2 separate regions of the Homo sapiens genome follow, and region 2 is linked to region 1. Evidence: fine-mapped expression QTL. Tissue or cell type: whole blood. Region 1 holds a variant in brackets; the other region holds the start of a gene. All regions are shown on one strand. Distances are between the middles of the regions.

What was found. PIP is the estimated chance that this variant, and not a neighbour inherited with it, causes the effect.
Region 2: RABEPK starts here. The variant in region 1 is fine-mapped to the expression of RABEPK in whole blood (TOPMed, PIP above 0.99).

The regions. Positions count from the first base shown.
Region 1 is chr9:125,217,107-125,225,211 of GRCh38, forward strand. RABEPK (Rab9 effector protein with kelch motifs) reads left to right here. Exons shown (of 8, transcript NM_005833.4): 5 at 3,433-3,594. Among named protein-coding and RNA genes, the nearest start is that of HSPA5, 20 kb to the right of the region's middle. The variant GC/G (reference allele first, on the strand shown) is at 3,466.
Region 2 is chr9:125,195,845-125,203,949 of GRCh38, forward strand. It overlaps RABEPK (Rab9 effector protein with kelch motifs), which reads left to right and starts at 4,698. Exons shown (of 8, transcript NM_005833.4): 1 at 4,698-5,062; 2 at 7,164-7,222. The coding sequence starts at 7,170. LOC105376271 (a long non-coding RNA gene) reads right to left here and starts at 4,552. Exons shown (of 2, transcript NR_135145.1): 1 at 4,382-4,552; 2 at 3,689-3,811. It also overlaps the pseudogene RPSAP76. RefSeq lists a silencer at 4,576-4,625.

The sequences.
Region 1 (8,105 bases):
ACTAACTATGACCTTGGACTAGTGATTTAACCTCTCTCTGCCTCTGTTTTCTGTCACATTGGATAGTAATAGTTTCTACCTTGTTAATTTGTCAAGGATTTAAATAAACTCAGTATCTGGCACATAATTAATGCTCAGTAATTGTTGTGGTAGTTGATGTAGTTAAGGTTTGGCAAAGGGAAATCAGTTCTGGAACCCTGGCCTTTTGATTTTCAACAATGGTATCCATTGAAATAAAATAAAGTGAGAATTTGGAAAGCTGTCAAAGAGGGTGATTTTATTTTATTTATTTATTTATTTATTTTTATTTTTGAGACAGTGTCTCACTGTGTTGCCAAGGCTGGAGTGCAGTGGCGCAATCTCAGCTCACTGCATCCTCCACCTCTTGGGTTCAAATGATTCTCCAGCCTCAGCCTCTCGAGTAGCTGGGATTACAGGCACATGCCACCATGCCCAGCTAATTTTTATATTAAAGAGGGTGATTTTCTATCATATCCCTTTTCTCTCCTAGAAAATATAATTTGACATCATGCCCAAGAAATATGAAATATGTACTTAGTTGCATTTGTTACCAAGGCAAGTCCCTCAAATGCTCAGGACTCCTTTGTGATTCTTTGTGCTGGTGTTTGAGTTGGCAGGAATACAGCCCTAGGGTCTTCTGGGCCTGGAGGTGACATGTATACCTTTCTAGCTCCCTCTAAGATCCAAAAGCTCTCCAACATCTGTAACTATAGAGACAGCTACATTTTGCTTTGGATATAGGCTGAGACTTTTTCAGTCTCCAGGTCCCCATTTGAGTCCCACACATATTACAGATGTTTCCTGTAGCATTTTATATATTGGATGTAGACCTTTTACAAAAGACAGAATTTCTTGGTGTGTTATGGTAGAGCAAGTGTGGGACTCTGATAGAACTGAGTTCAGGCCCGGCGCGGTAGCTCACGCCTGTAATCTCAGCACTTTGGGAGGCCGAGGCGGGCAGATCAGGAGGTCAGGAGCTCGAGACCATCCTGGCTAACACGGTGAAACTCCGTCTCTACTAAAAAAAAAAAAAATACAAAAAATTAGCCGGGCATGGTGGCGGATGCCTGTAGTCCCAGCTGCTCGGGAGGCTGAAGCAGGAGAATGGCGTGAACCCGGGAGGCGGAGCTTGCAAAGTGAGCCGAGATCGCGCCACTGCACTCTGGGCTGGGAGCCACAGCGAGACTCCGTCTCAAAAAAAAAAAAAAAAAAAAAAAAAAAGAACTGAGTTCAAACTCCTGCTCTGCTACGCACATATGCTATAACCTGCAGGAAAGGATTTAAATGTGCAGAGCTTCAGTTTCCTCATCTAAAAGTAGAGATACTTCCGCTCACTTCCCAAGCTTGAGTGAAGACACCAGGGATGGCAGTGCCCAGGGCAATGATGCTGCCCATTGAGGGTGCTCAATTAATGCATCTGCTTCTATAAAACCCAGGTTCATCCTTAAAAGAAATAAGCTTCTATACATCTATCTAGGTGGTGAAATTTTATTCTCCAGTCAGAGGAGTGGGAATTAGAAAGATCTTGGTGTTACTGAAAGAGTTTAAATTCCAACTCAGCCATTTCTTAGGCATGTCACTTTATCTGTCTCTCTCTCTCTCTCTTTCTCTCTCTCTTTCTTTGCCTTATTCTGTAACCCAGGCTGGAGTTGCAGTGGTGTGATCTTGACTCACTGCAACCTCAACCGCTGCAGGCTCAGTATATCCTCCCACCTAAGCTTCTCAGGTAGCTGGGACTATAGGCATACGCCACCACACCCGACTAATTTTTTTTTGTATTTTTTTGTAGAGACAGGGTTTTGCCATGTTGCCCAGGCTGGTCTCAAACTCCTGGGCTCAAGCAATCCACCTGCCCCAGCCTGCTAAAGTGTTGGGATTACAGGCATGAGCCACCGAGCCTGGCTAGCCATGTCTCTTTTAAAAAGTTACTTAATCCATCCCTACTTCAATTCTCTTACCTGTAAAATGCGGAAATTAATATTTGTTTAGCATTTACTGTTTAGTAGGGACTGTTATTACTGCTACTGAAATGTAATAGTATTGTCTTTTTTTTTTTTTCATTTCTTTCTTTCTTTTTTTTTTTTTTCAAGATATGGTCTTACTCTTTTACCCAGGCTAGAGTGCAATGGCACGATCATAGTTCATTGCAGCCTCAAACTCCTGGGCTCAAGCAATCCTCCTGCCTTGGCTTCCCAAAGTGCTAGGGTTACAGGCCTTACAGCCACTGTGCTCAGCCTAATTTTTTTTAATTTTTAATTTATTTTATTTTATTATTATTATTTTTTAAGATGAAGTCTCGCTTTGTCAACCAGGCTGGAGTGCAGTGGCATGATCTCAGCTCACTGCATCCTCCGCCTCCTGGTTCAAGTGATTCTCCTGTCTCAGCCTCCTGAGTAGCTGGGATTATAGGTCCCCACCACGACACCTGGCTTTATTTATTTATTTATTTATTTTTAGTAGAGATGGGATTTCACCATGTTGGCCAGGCTGGTCTAGAACTCCTACCCTCAAGTGATCCACCCACCTTGGTCTCCCAAAGTGCTGGGATTACAAGCGTGAGCCACTGCACCCCTGGCTGATTTTTTGTAGAGACAGGATATTGCTTTGTTTCCCAGTCTGGTCACAAACTCCTGGGCTCAAGCAATCCTCCTACCTCGATTTCCCAAACTGCTGAGGTTACAGGTGTTAGCTGCTGCACATGGCCTGCCTACTTTCTTTTATTGGCCACATTTTCTGGGAAATCTGGCACACCTGGACTCTGGCATCTAGTGGGAATGAATGTTAGCAGATGTTAGGGGGAGCGATAGTGAGCAAAGTAGAAGAGGGTTCAGAGAGGATATTTGAAGGCCTCCAAAACAAATTGACCTCTTTTTTTTCTTCTTTTTTTTTAATATGGAGCCTTGCTCTGTCACCCAGGCTGGAGTGCAGTGGTGCAATCTCAGCTCACTGCAACCTTCACCTCCTGGGTTCAAGCGATTCTCCTGCCTCAACCTCCTGAGGAGCTGGGATTACAGGTCCCCACCACCATACCCGGCTAATTTTTCAGATTTTTAGTAGAGATGGGGTTTTACCCCATGTTGGCCAGGCTGGTTTCGAACTCCTGACCTCAAGTGATCCGCCCGCCTTGGCCTCCCAAAGTGCTGGGATTACAGGCATGAGCCACACTGCACCCAGCCTGACTCCATTCTTGTGCTTACAGCTTTTAAATCTTGGGGATTTTGGACTGTCTTGGCAAATCCTAAGTATCATCTTCATTCTTCCTTGATGTTTGTGAGTATGAGATCCCTGCCCAAAACTATGCTGGCCCCCCTGGGGATTGGAGTTTGGAAACTGACTTCACTCAGCCCCAGAGTCAAGGTCAGAAGCCCCTCTACCTGGATATTTTAAGTGCCTGCATTCTCTCTGGCCCAGAAACCAGGACGTGGACCACGCCAGAAGTGACCA[GC/G]CCCCCACCATCCCCAAGAACATTCCACACATCATCGGCAGCCATTGGAAACCAGCTATATGTCTTTGGGGGCGGAGAGAGAGGTGCCCAGCCCGTGCAGGACACGAAGCTGCATGTGTTTGACGCAAGTATGGACTGGTGGGCACCTTGGGGCTGGTCAGGGCCATCCCAGTTTACACATTACCTAATATAGGAAGCAGAAGTTAGAAAAGGAAAGCCTGACTAAGTGTCTCACTTCTAGACTTCTTTGTTATATCTCTTAGCTGATATCTTTTTCCCACAGCAAAATTGGCATTTAAAAAGGGATAGTGAGGCCTGGCATGGTGGCTCACACCTGTAATCCCAGAGCTTTGGAAGGCTGAGGCAGGTGGACCGCTTAAGGTCAGGAGTTCGAGAACAGCCTGGCCAACATACCTTTTCTCTACTAAAAACACAAAAATTATCCGGGCATGATGGTATGCACCTGTAATCCCAGTTACTCAGGAGGCTGAGGCAGGAGAATCGCTTAAACCCAGGAGGAGGAAGTTTCAGTGAGCCAAGATTGGGCCACTGCACTCAGCCTGGGCAACAGAGCAATACTCCATCTCAAATAAATAAATAAATAAATAAATAAATAAATAAATAAATAAAACTAAAAAGGTAGGCCGGGAACGGTGGCTCACGTCTGTGATCCCAGCACTTTGTGACGCCCAGGTGGGAGGATCACCTGAGGTCAGGAGTTTGAAACCAGCCTGGCCATCATGGCAAAACCCCATCTCTACTAAAAATACAAAAATTGGCCGGGTGCAGCGGTGGGTGCCTGTAATCCCAGCTACTCGGGAGGCTGAGGCAGGAGAATCACTTGAACCCGGGAGGCGGAGGTGGCAATGAACCAAGATCGTGCCATTGCACTCCAGCCTTGGCAACAGAGCGAGACTCTCTCAAAAACTAAATAAAAAAATAAAAAGGTATAATGATCAAGTTAAAAAGTTTAAACCATACAATTTATAAAGTAAAAAAGTAAAAGAAAGAATAAGAAAGACAAAAAACAAACAGAAGTAAAAGATTCCCCTTCAGCCTTTCCTTTCCCCGCCTCAGGTACATGCCTGGGTGATTTTTTTTCTTTTTCTTTTTTTTTTTTTGAGATGGAGTCTCGCTCTGTTGCCCAGGCTGGAGTGCAGTTGCCCGATCTCGGCTCACTGCAACCTCCGCCTCCCGGGTTCAAGCGATTCTCCTGCCTCGGCCTCCCAACTAGCTGGGATTACCAGCATGCACCAACATGTCCATCTAATTTTTTGCGTTTTTAGTAGAGACAGGGTTTCACCATGTTGGCCAGGCTGGTCTTGAAGCCTGACCTCAGGTAATCTGCCCACTTCAGCCTCCCAAAGTGCTGGGATTACAGGCTTGAGCCACTGCACCCGGCCAGATTTTTGTATTTTTATTGTAGAGATGCAGTTTTGCCATGTTGCCCAGGCTGGTCTCAAACTCATGAGCTCAAGCAATCTGCCTGCCTCTGCCTGCCCACCTCTGCCACCACACTCAGCCAAAATTTTTACCTTGCAAAGTAAAATTGGGAAAATTAAGAGATAGCACATTCCCAAGCCAGAGTATTTGGGAAAAAAAAAAAAAAAGACACATCACAGTGTGACTTTTCTCTTTCCAGAAAGAATGGGCTTTGTGATTCTTTTAAAGCAGTTTTAAAAGTTTAAATAATATTGGTTTTGAATATATAAAACTATAAGGAACAAGAAAAAAAACATATGTATGTGTATATGTGTGTGTGTGTGTACATGTGTATGTACTATCACCCCAAAATTAAATTACTGTTAACATCTCAGTGTATTATCAATCTTTTTTTTTTAAGAACAGAGATAATTCAAACCAGATGTGGTGGCTCACGCCTGTAATGCCAGGACTTTGGGAGGCTGAGGAGGGCAGATTACTTGAGGTCAGGAGTTCAAGAGCAGCCTGACCAACATAGTGAAACCTCGTTGCTACTAAAAATACAAAAAATTAACTGGGCGTGGTGACGCACACCTGTAATCCCAGCTACTTGGGAGGCTGAGGCATGAGAATCACTTGAACCCCGGAGGCGGAGGTTGCAATGAGCCGAGATCTTGCCACTGCACTCCAGCCTGGGTGAGGGAGCAAGACTCTGTATCAAAAAAAAAAAAAAAAAAAAAAAAGGACAGAGATAATTCTATATGTTACATTTGCATCCTATATTTTTCACTTAAGCATTGTTCCATGCAATCAGAAAGTCTTCACCAGCATTTTGAAATGATGATTATTATATAAATATTAGAGTCAGGGTCTCACTGCATTGCCAAGGCTGGTCTCAAACTCCTAGCCTCAAGTGATCCTTCAGCTTTGGTCCCTCAAAGTGCTGGGATTACAGGCATTGAGCCACACCACCCGGCCTTCACCATCATTTTTAATAAGTGCTTAGGCCAGGCGCGGTGGCTCACGCCTGTAATCCCAGCACTTTGGGAGGCAGAGGCGGGTGGATCATGAGGTCAGGAGTTCGAGACCAGCCTGGCCAAGATGGTGAAACCCTGTCTCTACTAAAAATACAAAAATCAGCCAGGAATGGTGGCGGGCGCCTATAATCCCAGCTACTCAGGAGGCTGAGGCAGCAGAATTGCTTGAACCCAGGAGGCAGAGGTGGGTGGATTACCTGAGGTCAGGTAATCCTGGGCAACATGGTGAAACCCTGTCTCTACTAAAAATACAAAAAATTAGCTGGACGTGGTGGCAGGTGCCTGCCTGCCACCCTCTGCTGCAATCCCAGCTACTAGGGAGGCTGAGGCAGGAGAATCCCTTGAACCTGGGAGGTGGAGGTAGCAGTGAGCTAAGATCACGCCACTGCACTCTAGCCTGGGTGACAGAGCAAGGCTCTGTCTCAAAAAAATAAATAAATTTTTTAAAAAGTGTGTAATATTTCCTCATGGCTATACTAATAATTAAACCTGCTCATGGACACTTAGGCTATTTCCAATTTTTGTCTATTATAAACAATACTGTAATGAACAAGCCAGGTATGCTGACTCATGCCTATAATCCCATCGGCTCAGGAGGCTGGAGGACCGCTTGGGCCCAGGAGTTTGAGGATGTAGTGAGCCATAATTGCACCACTGCACTCCAGCCTTTGCAGTAGAGCGAGACCCTGACTCTAAAAAAAAAAAAAAAAAAAAAATGCTATAAGGAACATATTTATGCAGAAACCATTTCAGGTAATTTTAAATTAAATTCCTTGGGACACTGGGGACTCCTTGAACAACCAGCAGGCATACCATAAACAGTAATTCAAAGACAAATTGTTTGGCAGACCTTTGTTTCAAAGAGTTTTTGCAGGCTGGGCGCAGTGGCTCATGCCCGTAATCCTTTGGGAGGCCACTTTGGGACACCAAAGCAGGTGGATCCCTTGAGGTCAGGAGTTCAAAACTAGCCTTGACAACATGATGAAACCCTGTTTCAACTGAAAATACAAAAAATTATCCAGGCATGGCGGCAGGTGCCTATAATCCCAGCTACTCGGGAGGCTGAGGCAGGAGAATCGCTTCTCCTGGAGGAGGCAGAGGTTGCAGTGAGCCAAGATCGCACCACTGCACTCCAGCCTGGGCAACAGAGCAACACTCTATCTCAAAAAACAAAAACAAAACAAAAAAAAAAAACAACAGAGTTTTTGCAGTACTCCTTTAAGACTTTTCTGGTATATAGAAATGATTAATTTTCCAGAATTCTATATATGTACAGCTTTGAAGATAAGAAGGGTTGCCTGTAGTAAAACGTAATAATCATCATATTCATAACTCTCATGTATTGGGTACTTTTTTTTCCTTCATGCTTTATGTATATTATCTCATTTAATTCATACCTCAGCTCTTAAAAGTAGGTATTGTCTTTTTTTTTTTTTTTTGAGATGAAGTCACGCTCTGTTGCCCAGGCTGGAGTGCAATGACACAATCTTGGCTCACTGCAACCTCCACCTCCCGGGTTCAAGCAATTCTCCTGCCTCAGCCTCCCGAGTAGCTTGGACTGCAGGCACATGCCACCACGCCTGGCTAATTTTTAAAATATTCTTAGTAGAGATGGGGTTTTACTGTGTTAGTCAGGATGGTCTCGATCTCCTGACCTCGTGATCCGCCCATCTTGGCCTCCCAAAGTGCTGGGATTACAGTCATAAGCCACTGCGCCCGGCCAGTATTGTCTGTATCCTTATTTTACAGCCATAGAAACTGCAGCTTAGAGAAGTAATTGGTGAAAGGCCACATAGTTATATAGTGAGATAACCTGGTTTCAGCTCCAAATCCCATATTCTAACCATTATCCTATACTGCCACATCAGGAGTCCCTGCTAACTTTTATTTAAGACTAGTCTGTTTTTTTCCCCAACCCCTTCAGCAAATCAATTAAGTCTAGCAGGATGCAGTGGTGTGTGCCTATAGTCCCAGCTACTTGGGAGGCTGAGGTGGGAGGACCACTTGAGCCTAGGAGTTCCAGTCCAGCCTGGACAACATAGCAAGACCCCATCTCTAAAAATAATAATAAGACTGGGTGTGGTGGCTGACACCTGCAATCCCAGCACTTTGGGAGGCTGAGGTGGGTGGATCACTTGAGCCCAGGAGTTCAAGACCAGCCTGGGCAACATGGTCAATCC
Region 2 (8,105 bases), 21 kb before region 1:
TGATGGGAATCCATAACAACCCCATATGGACCCCTCTGTGGGTAGCATAGAAAACTGGCTGTTTTTCTTTCTTTCTTTCTTTCTTTTTTTTTTTTTTTTTTTTGAGACAGGCTGTCGCCTTTTTTTTTTTTTCTGTCACCTAGGCTGGAGTGCAGTGGCACAATCTCGGCTCACTGCAACCTCTGCCTCCTAGGCTCAAGCAGTCCTCCCACCTCAGCCTTCCAAGTAGCTGGGATTACAGGCATGCATCTCCACACCTGGGTAATTTTTGTATTTTTAGTAGAGACGGGGTTTCACCATGTTGGTCAGTCTGGTCTCAAACTCCTGACCTCAGTTGATTGGCCCACCTCGGCCTCCCAAAGTGTTGGGATTACAGGCATGAGCCACTGCGCCCAGCCACAATTCACTCTTAATCTCTGAACCTCAGTAATTGGGAATAAATCCTATTCAAGATACCTTCTCAGAAGTGGGAAGGAAGACAAATAGGGAGATGGATGTGAATGTTCTTCATAAACTGTAAAGTGCTTAAAAGGAAGGTCTCACCGGCATTCATTACTTCCCTTGCTGATGCATCAGTAAAGAGGTCAGTGGTGTGCTGTTCCAGTGAAAATAGGTGGCAGTCCTCACATGACCACACTATCTGACAGGAGGAAGCTCCCTCCTGCAGACCCACCTCATTGAGTGAACATCATTCTTCACATCCACAGCAGAGAGAAAAGAAGAAAGCGTGCGTCAGAGTGTTGGGCAAGCTTTTAGGAGAGGTGTTAGACACTTCCAGTGGTTTGGTATGGAGATGGGGTAACAGAGCTTGATGACTGGAATGCATTCTTAGTCTTCCTTGCAAGAAATAAGAGATCTGGGTTCCTGGGTTCCTGGTTCTGCCATTTTATGTGGGGTAGTTATTTTAACTTCTCTGGGCCTTGATTTCCATTTTTAAAAATACATCTCTTGCCAGGCACAGTGGCTCACACCTGTAATCCCAGCACTTTTGGAGGCAGAGGTGGGTGAATCATTTGAGGTCAGGAATTCAAGACCAACCTGGCCAACATGGTGAAACCCTGTCTCTACGAAAAATACAAAAATTAGCCAGGCATGGTGGTGCGCACCTGTAGTCCCAGGTACTCAGGAGGCTGAGGCAAGAGAATTGCTTGAACCTGGGAGGCGGAGGTTGCAGTAACCTGAGATCATGACACTGCACTCCAGGCTGGGCGACAGAACAAGATTCCATCTCAAAATAAGTAAATAAATAAAAATAGAAATAGAAAATACATCTCAGGCAGCCTGGCGCAGTGGCTCACGCCTGTAATCCCAGAACTTTGGGAGACCGAGGTGGGTGGATCACGAGGTCAGGAGTTCAAGACCAGCCTGGCCAAGATGGTGAAACCCCGTCTCTACTAAAAATGCAAAAAAAAAATTAGCTGGGTGTGGTGGCGGGTACCTGTAATCCCAGCTACTTGGGAGGATGATGCAGAGAATTGCTTGAACCCGGGAGGCGGATGTTGCAGTGAGCCGAGATCATGCCACTGCACTCCCCCAGCTTGGGCGACAGAGCAAGACTGTCTCAAAAAAAAAAAAAGAAAATAGATCTCAGGCATTCCACATTCTCAAATGTGATTTCTAGTCTAAAAGCATAGGTTCAGCAGGCACGGTGGCTCATGCCTGTAATGCCAGCACTTTGGGTGGCCAAGGCAGGTGGATCATCTGAGGCTAGGAGTTCAAGACCAGCCTGGCCAACATGGTGAAATGCCGTCTCTACTAAAAGTACAAAAATTAACCATACGTGGTGGCCACGCCTATAATCCCAGCTACTTGGGAGGCTGAGGCAGGACAATTGCTTGAACCCAGGAGGCGGAGGTTGCAGTGAACTGAGGGCGCCACTGCATTCCATCCTGGGCGACAAATCGAGACTCCGTCTGTAAATAAATAAATAAATAGGTCCCGCAGTGAAAACTGGCTGCTATTTTGCCCACAAACCTCTTCCAATTTTTCTTGTTGATGTGCCACTCCAGCATGGCACCTTGAAACAGAGCTAGCCAGAAAACACCGGGGACATCAGAGCATTCTGCAGCTGTGAGCAGAAATGTACGTGGAGATGCACATGGACATATGGCAGAGCTAACCTGGACTTGGTTTTCTTTCCTGAAGGAGAGCAGAATGACTGAATATCCCTAAACTTCTCTTTGGCAGACAGTCAATGGGGATTTTTCCACTAAAGTGGGAACTCACAAAGACTCCATATGTTTGAAAGAGCCGCAGACCTTGAATTCCATTTTGTCAATAAATTTTGGTTATGGTTTCAAGTAGCTAAAATATTCCTTTCACCAACCTGGCCTTTCACCTGTATTAGCACATCCTCTGAACAGTTCTGTCTGCACAGCAGGTAATACTATCATCATTCTATAGATGAGGAACTAGGGTTCAGAGTGGGTAACTTGCCAAATGTCAGAGTTAGATGGTTAGTGCTGGACCCTGGATTTTTTTTTTTTGACAGAGTCTTGCTCTGTTGCCCCGGCTGGAGTGCAGTGGCACGATCTCGGCTCACTGCAACCTCCACCTCCTGGGTTCAAGTGATTCTTCTGCCTCAGCCTCCTGAGTAGCTGGGATTACAGGCAAACGCCTGGCTGATTTTTTTTTAGACAGAGTCTTGCTCTGTTGCCCAAGCTGGAGTGCAGTGGCATGATCTTGGCTCACCACAACCTCTGCCTCCCGATTCAAGCAATTCTCCTGCCTCAGCCTCCCGAGTAGCTGGGACTATAGGTGCGCATCACCGTGCCTGGCTAATTTTTGTATTTTTAGTAGAGATGGGGTTTCACTATGTTGGCCAGGCTGGTCTTGAACTCCTGACCTCGTGATCTGCCCTCCTTGGCCTCCCATAGTGCTGGGATTACAGGCATGAGCCACCACACCCAGCCTGGAGCTTGGATTTTAACCCAAGTATGTTTGATCTCTTCCCACTAAGCTACCATAGCTCTATACTCCAGGAGCTCCTGTTTCTAACCTGAGCTGTTTTCTCTATTTTCTAGGACACAGCGACAGTTTCAGAGACTGGAGTTCTTTGAAACAGACATAAGAGAGCAAGCCACCTCTCTATTTTCAGGAAAGACACAGAGAACCTATGGTTATGAACTAAAACAAAGATAATGTAGATTCTGAATATGTCTAGAGACATTGTTCATTTATAGTCAGGAATAGCTTTACCCTTGACAGAGAACTCTGTGCCAGCTGCTGGGTGCTGAGCACTTTTATTTACATTATGTCATGTATTCCCCACCACAACTACTACATACATCTCTCTTTTTTTTTTTTTTTTCTTGAGACGGAGTCTGGCTCTGTCACCCAGGCTGGAGTGCAGTGGCACTATCTCGGCTCACTGCAACCTCCGCCTCCCAGATTCAAGCAATTTTCCTGCCTCAGCCTCCTGAGTAGCAGGGATTACAGGCGCCCACCACCACGCCTAGCTAATTTTTGTGTTTTTAGTTGGGGGGGGGGGCGGGGGCGTTCACCATGTAGGCCAGGCTGGTCTCGAACTCCTGACCTCGTGATCCGCCCGCCTCGGCCTCCCAAAGTGCTGGACTTATAGGCGTGAGCCACCGCGCCCAGCCTATGATAGAAATCTTATTAGCTCCATGGTTACAAACAGACAACCCTGAGGCCTGGAGGAAAGTAACTTCAGAACAGATACTCTCCTGGCTGAACTTTATATTTATTGCACTCTTGGCAGTCGTCCCTAGTTGTCTTTTTCTTTGATCTCTCTCTAGTTAAGACTTGCTCCTGGAGGCAAAGCGTGGTGGTGTCTGGCTCAGCATAGCACCTGCCATAATTACAAATGGCAATTATGGAATGAATCAGCTGTTTAAAGCACCAAATCTTGAGCTGGCCCGAAGACTGCGCAGGAGGATTGCATGCTCAACTCTCCCCTTTAGAAACTGTTAACAATCGTTGTGGCCGGGCGCGGTGGCTCACGCCTGTAATCCCAGCACTTTGGGAGGCCGAGGCGGGTGGATCATGAGGTCAGGAGATCGAGACCATCCTGGCTAACAAGGTGAAACCCCGTCTCTACTAAAAATACAAAAAAAATTAGCCGGGCGCGGTGGCGGGCGCCTGTAGTCCCAGCTACTCGGGAGGCTGAGGCAGGAGAATGGCGTGAACCCGGGAAGCGGAGCTTGCAGTGAGCCGAGATTGCGCCACTGCAGTCCGCAGTCCCGCCTGGGCGACAGAGCGAGACTCCGTCTCAAAAAAAAAAAAAAAAAACAATCGTTGTAACTGGAAATGTAACTGTTATACCCTCCCCCCCTTTTATTTATTTATTTTTTTGAGAGGGAGTTTTTGCGCTGTTGCCCAAGCTGGAGTGTGGTGGCGCCCAGCCCTGTTAGCCCCTTACAGAGTAGATCAGCTGCCGCAGGCATCTGAGTTCCCCAAACGGACGCCCGAACCCGGCATTGCGCAAATCGTTTCCAAGTAGCCCCGGCTTATTTATCCCGTCCGGGAGGGAGGGACCCAGGGAAGGCCCACCCCACTTGGTTCCCGAGAAATGCAGAGCCTGGCGTCCACTCCCGGTCTGGGGGACCCCTCCACCGCCAGCCCAGGAAGTCAGCGCCGGGCCCTCGGGGCGGAGCAGGGAAGAGGGAGCGGTTGGCCCGGACGCTCTTCCGGGTCCTGGGAGGAGGGCCCGGACCTAAGCCCCGCCCCTCCGGGGTGGAGTCACGGCTCGCGACTGGCCTAAGTCGCCGCAGGTATTGCAGTCCGGGGCTGGAGGGTAGGGGCGAGGGTCCCCGGATACCGGGTCTATCACGGTCTCGGGCAGGGAGTCTGAATCTTTTAGGGGAGTGGGCCCAAGCCGGGTGCAAAGAACGGGGAAGGGCCTTCCCTGGCTCCGTCCCGGCCACTTTGACCGAATCAGCCTGTTCTTTCCCGACCCCGTCTCCTATCCCCTAGAACTGCCACGTGGGGATGAGATTTGCTGGGCTGGTAGCGGCGGCTGCTGCGGGAGGTCCCGCCCACGTGAAGCCAGCCTAACTGAGCTCTGGACTTTGGGGACAGCTGTCAGTGGCCTAGGCCGCAGGTGAGATTTATCCATTCATCTCTCAATCTATTTTCTTTCTTCATTCACTAGCCACTCCCCCACTTCTACTCCATGCCAGGTCCATTGGTAGGTTCTCGGAATGGATCTGACAGGCCCAGCCCTCTAGGAACTTAGTCTAGTGGAATTTAATCTAGAATCTAGTCTAGAAGCCTTAAATAGATAAACATTCCAAATGATTCCTGCAATGGTGATGGCTAATACCTTCAGAGCCCAGTGGGTGGAAGAAGGAAGTAACTTGGATGTGGGTGGAAGAGAAAAGGGCAAATCAGGGAAGGTTTCACCAGGGAAGGGACTTTTGAACTGGGCTTTGAAGGTTAACTAGGAGTTTGCAAATTTCCCAGAAGGGAAGCGACATTCCAAATAGGGGAAGCAGAACAGGCTGCAAAATTATGAAAAGGCCTGCCATATTACAAGAACAGCAAAAAAACCAATAATGCAAGAGATTGTGGAGGTGAGTTCACGGGAAAAAAGCTCAACAGCAGAAGGCCTTACTTTCTATGCTATGTTGAGGCCAAGATTTATCCCAGAGCTCAGTATTTCTCAGCTTCTTTAAATATTTTGTCCTTTGAGCGGAGAGCAGTGGCTCACACCTGTAATCCCAGCTTTTTAGGAGGCTGAGGTGGAAGAATTGCCTGAGGCTAGGAGTTCGAGACCAGCCTGGACAACAAAGCGAAACCTCCATTTCTATTTTTTTTTCTTTTTTTGAGGAGGAGTCTTGCTCTGTCGCCAGGCTGGAGTGCAAGTGGCGCAATTTCGGCTCACTGCAACCTCCGCCTCTTGGGTTCAAGCAATTCTCACGCCTCAGCCTCCTGAGTAGCTGGGACTACAGGCGTGGGCCACAACGCCCAGCTAATTTTTTTTGTATTTTTAGTAAAGACAGGGTTTCACCATGTTGGCCAGGATGGTATCGATCTGACCTCATGATCCGCCTGCCTCGGCCTCCCAAAGTGCTGGGATTACAGGCGTGAGCCACTGCTCCCAGCCCCGTTTCTATTTTTAATTAAAAAATAAATAAATGGCCGGGCTCAGTGGCTCACGCCTGTAATCCCAGCACTTTGGGAGGCCGAGGCGAGCCAAGTTCAAGACCAGCCTGGCGAACATAGTGAAACCCCATCCCTACGAAAAATACAAAAAAAATTAGCCAGGTGTGGTGGCACTTGCCTGTAGTCCCAGCTTACTCTGGAGGCTGAGGCAGGAGAATAGCTTGAACCCGGGAGGCAGAGGTTGCAGTGAGCTGAGATCCTGCCACTGCACTCCAGCCTGGGTGACAGAGTGAGACTCCATCTCAGAAAAAATAAAAATAAAAAATAAAGCCAGGCACGGTGGCTCATGCCTGTAATCCCAGCACTTTGGGAGGCTGAGGCGGGCAAATCACCTGAGGTCAGGAGTTAGTGACCAGCCTGGCCAGTGTGGTAAAACCCCGTCTCTACTAGAAAAGCTAGAAAAATGAGCTGGGCGTGGGTGGGCACCTGTAATCTCAGCTACTCAGGAGGCTGAGAAAGGAGAATCATTTAAACCTGGGAGGGGAAGGTTGCAGTGAGTGGAGATTGCACCACTGCACTCCAACCTGTGCAACAGAGTGAGACTCTATCTAAAAATAATAATAAAGATAAATACATAGGCCAGGCACGGTGGCTCACACCTGTAATCCCAGCACTTTGGGAGGCTGAGGCGGGTGGATCAGCTGAGGTCAGGAGTTCGAGACCAGCCTGACCAACATGGTGAAACTCCATCTCTACTAAAAATAGAAAAATTAGCTGGGCGTAGTGGCACATGCCTGTAATCCAAGCTACTCGGGAGGCTGAGGGAGGAGAATCGTTTGAACCTGGGAGGCAGAGGTTGCCATGAGCTGAGATCTTGCCATTGCACTCCAGCCTGGGCAACGAGAGCTAAACTCCATCTCAAATAAATAAATAAATAAATAAATAATAAAAATAAAGATGAAAAGTTGGTGATTCTTATTCAAATCAATCAGGCCTAGAAATTAGTACATTCAACAGGAAAGGTTTAAAAAGGAGGTTGAATTGATTAAGATGATAATCATAAGTGTCTAAAAAGTGCCTTTCTTTCTTATGCATAGGACACCATGAAGCAACTGCCAGTCTTGGAACCTGGAGACAAGCCCAGGAAAGCAACATGGTCTGTAAGGAAGGATCCAGACACAGAAAAGCATGAGTTTTTGTTTCATTTATAAGTAGTTTATTTACATATTTGATCATCAACAAAAAGGGGTAGAGATGAAACTGTCTGCAGTTTCTGGTAATTAGACTCAAACTGTCTGAGAAAGTCTTCAGAGGAAAGATAGGGGGGCAGTAATTATCACAGAGCAGATGTTAATTTTATTAAAATCCATTTACCAGAAAGAGTAAGGCACTGACCATCTGGCATCCTCAGCTCCAATGCTGTGTCTTCCCCCGAGCTCTGACTCATTTTTAAGATTTTTAGGAAATTAGATTTGGATTAAACTGGCTTCACTGTTTCTTGGCTGTTTGTTCAAACAACCCTTTATTCAACAACTAACATTGGCCTGATGGGGGCAGCTGCTCTGTGGGTGCTGGAGGTAGAATTGTAAATAGTCTCTGTGTACTGGGGACTACAGACTAAGCAGGTGATGGTGATAAAATGTGATCTGCTCTGAGTCAGGGCCCACAGAAGGTTGTAGAGAGGTGGCAGTTCTTCAACAGGACCTTGAAGGAGAGACTCCAGACTGGCTTCCATGCATCTGTCTTGCTCTGTACCCAGAATACAGCCAATCATGGCATTTCCTAGTTTAAAACCCTTTTGTGCCTCCCTGTTGGTGTTGGGATAAAAATCAGACTCCTGGGCTGGGCACGGTGGCTCATGCCTGTAATCCCAGCACTTTGGGAGGCCAAGGCGGGTGGATCTCCTGAGGTCAGGAGTTTGAGACCAGCCTGACCAATATGGTGAAACCCCATCTCTACTAAAAATACAAAAATTAGCTGGCATGGTGTTGTGCAACTGTAGTCCCAGCTACTAGGGAGGCTAAGACAGGAGAATTGCT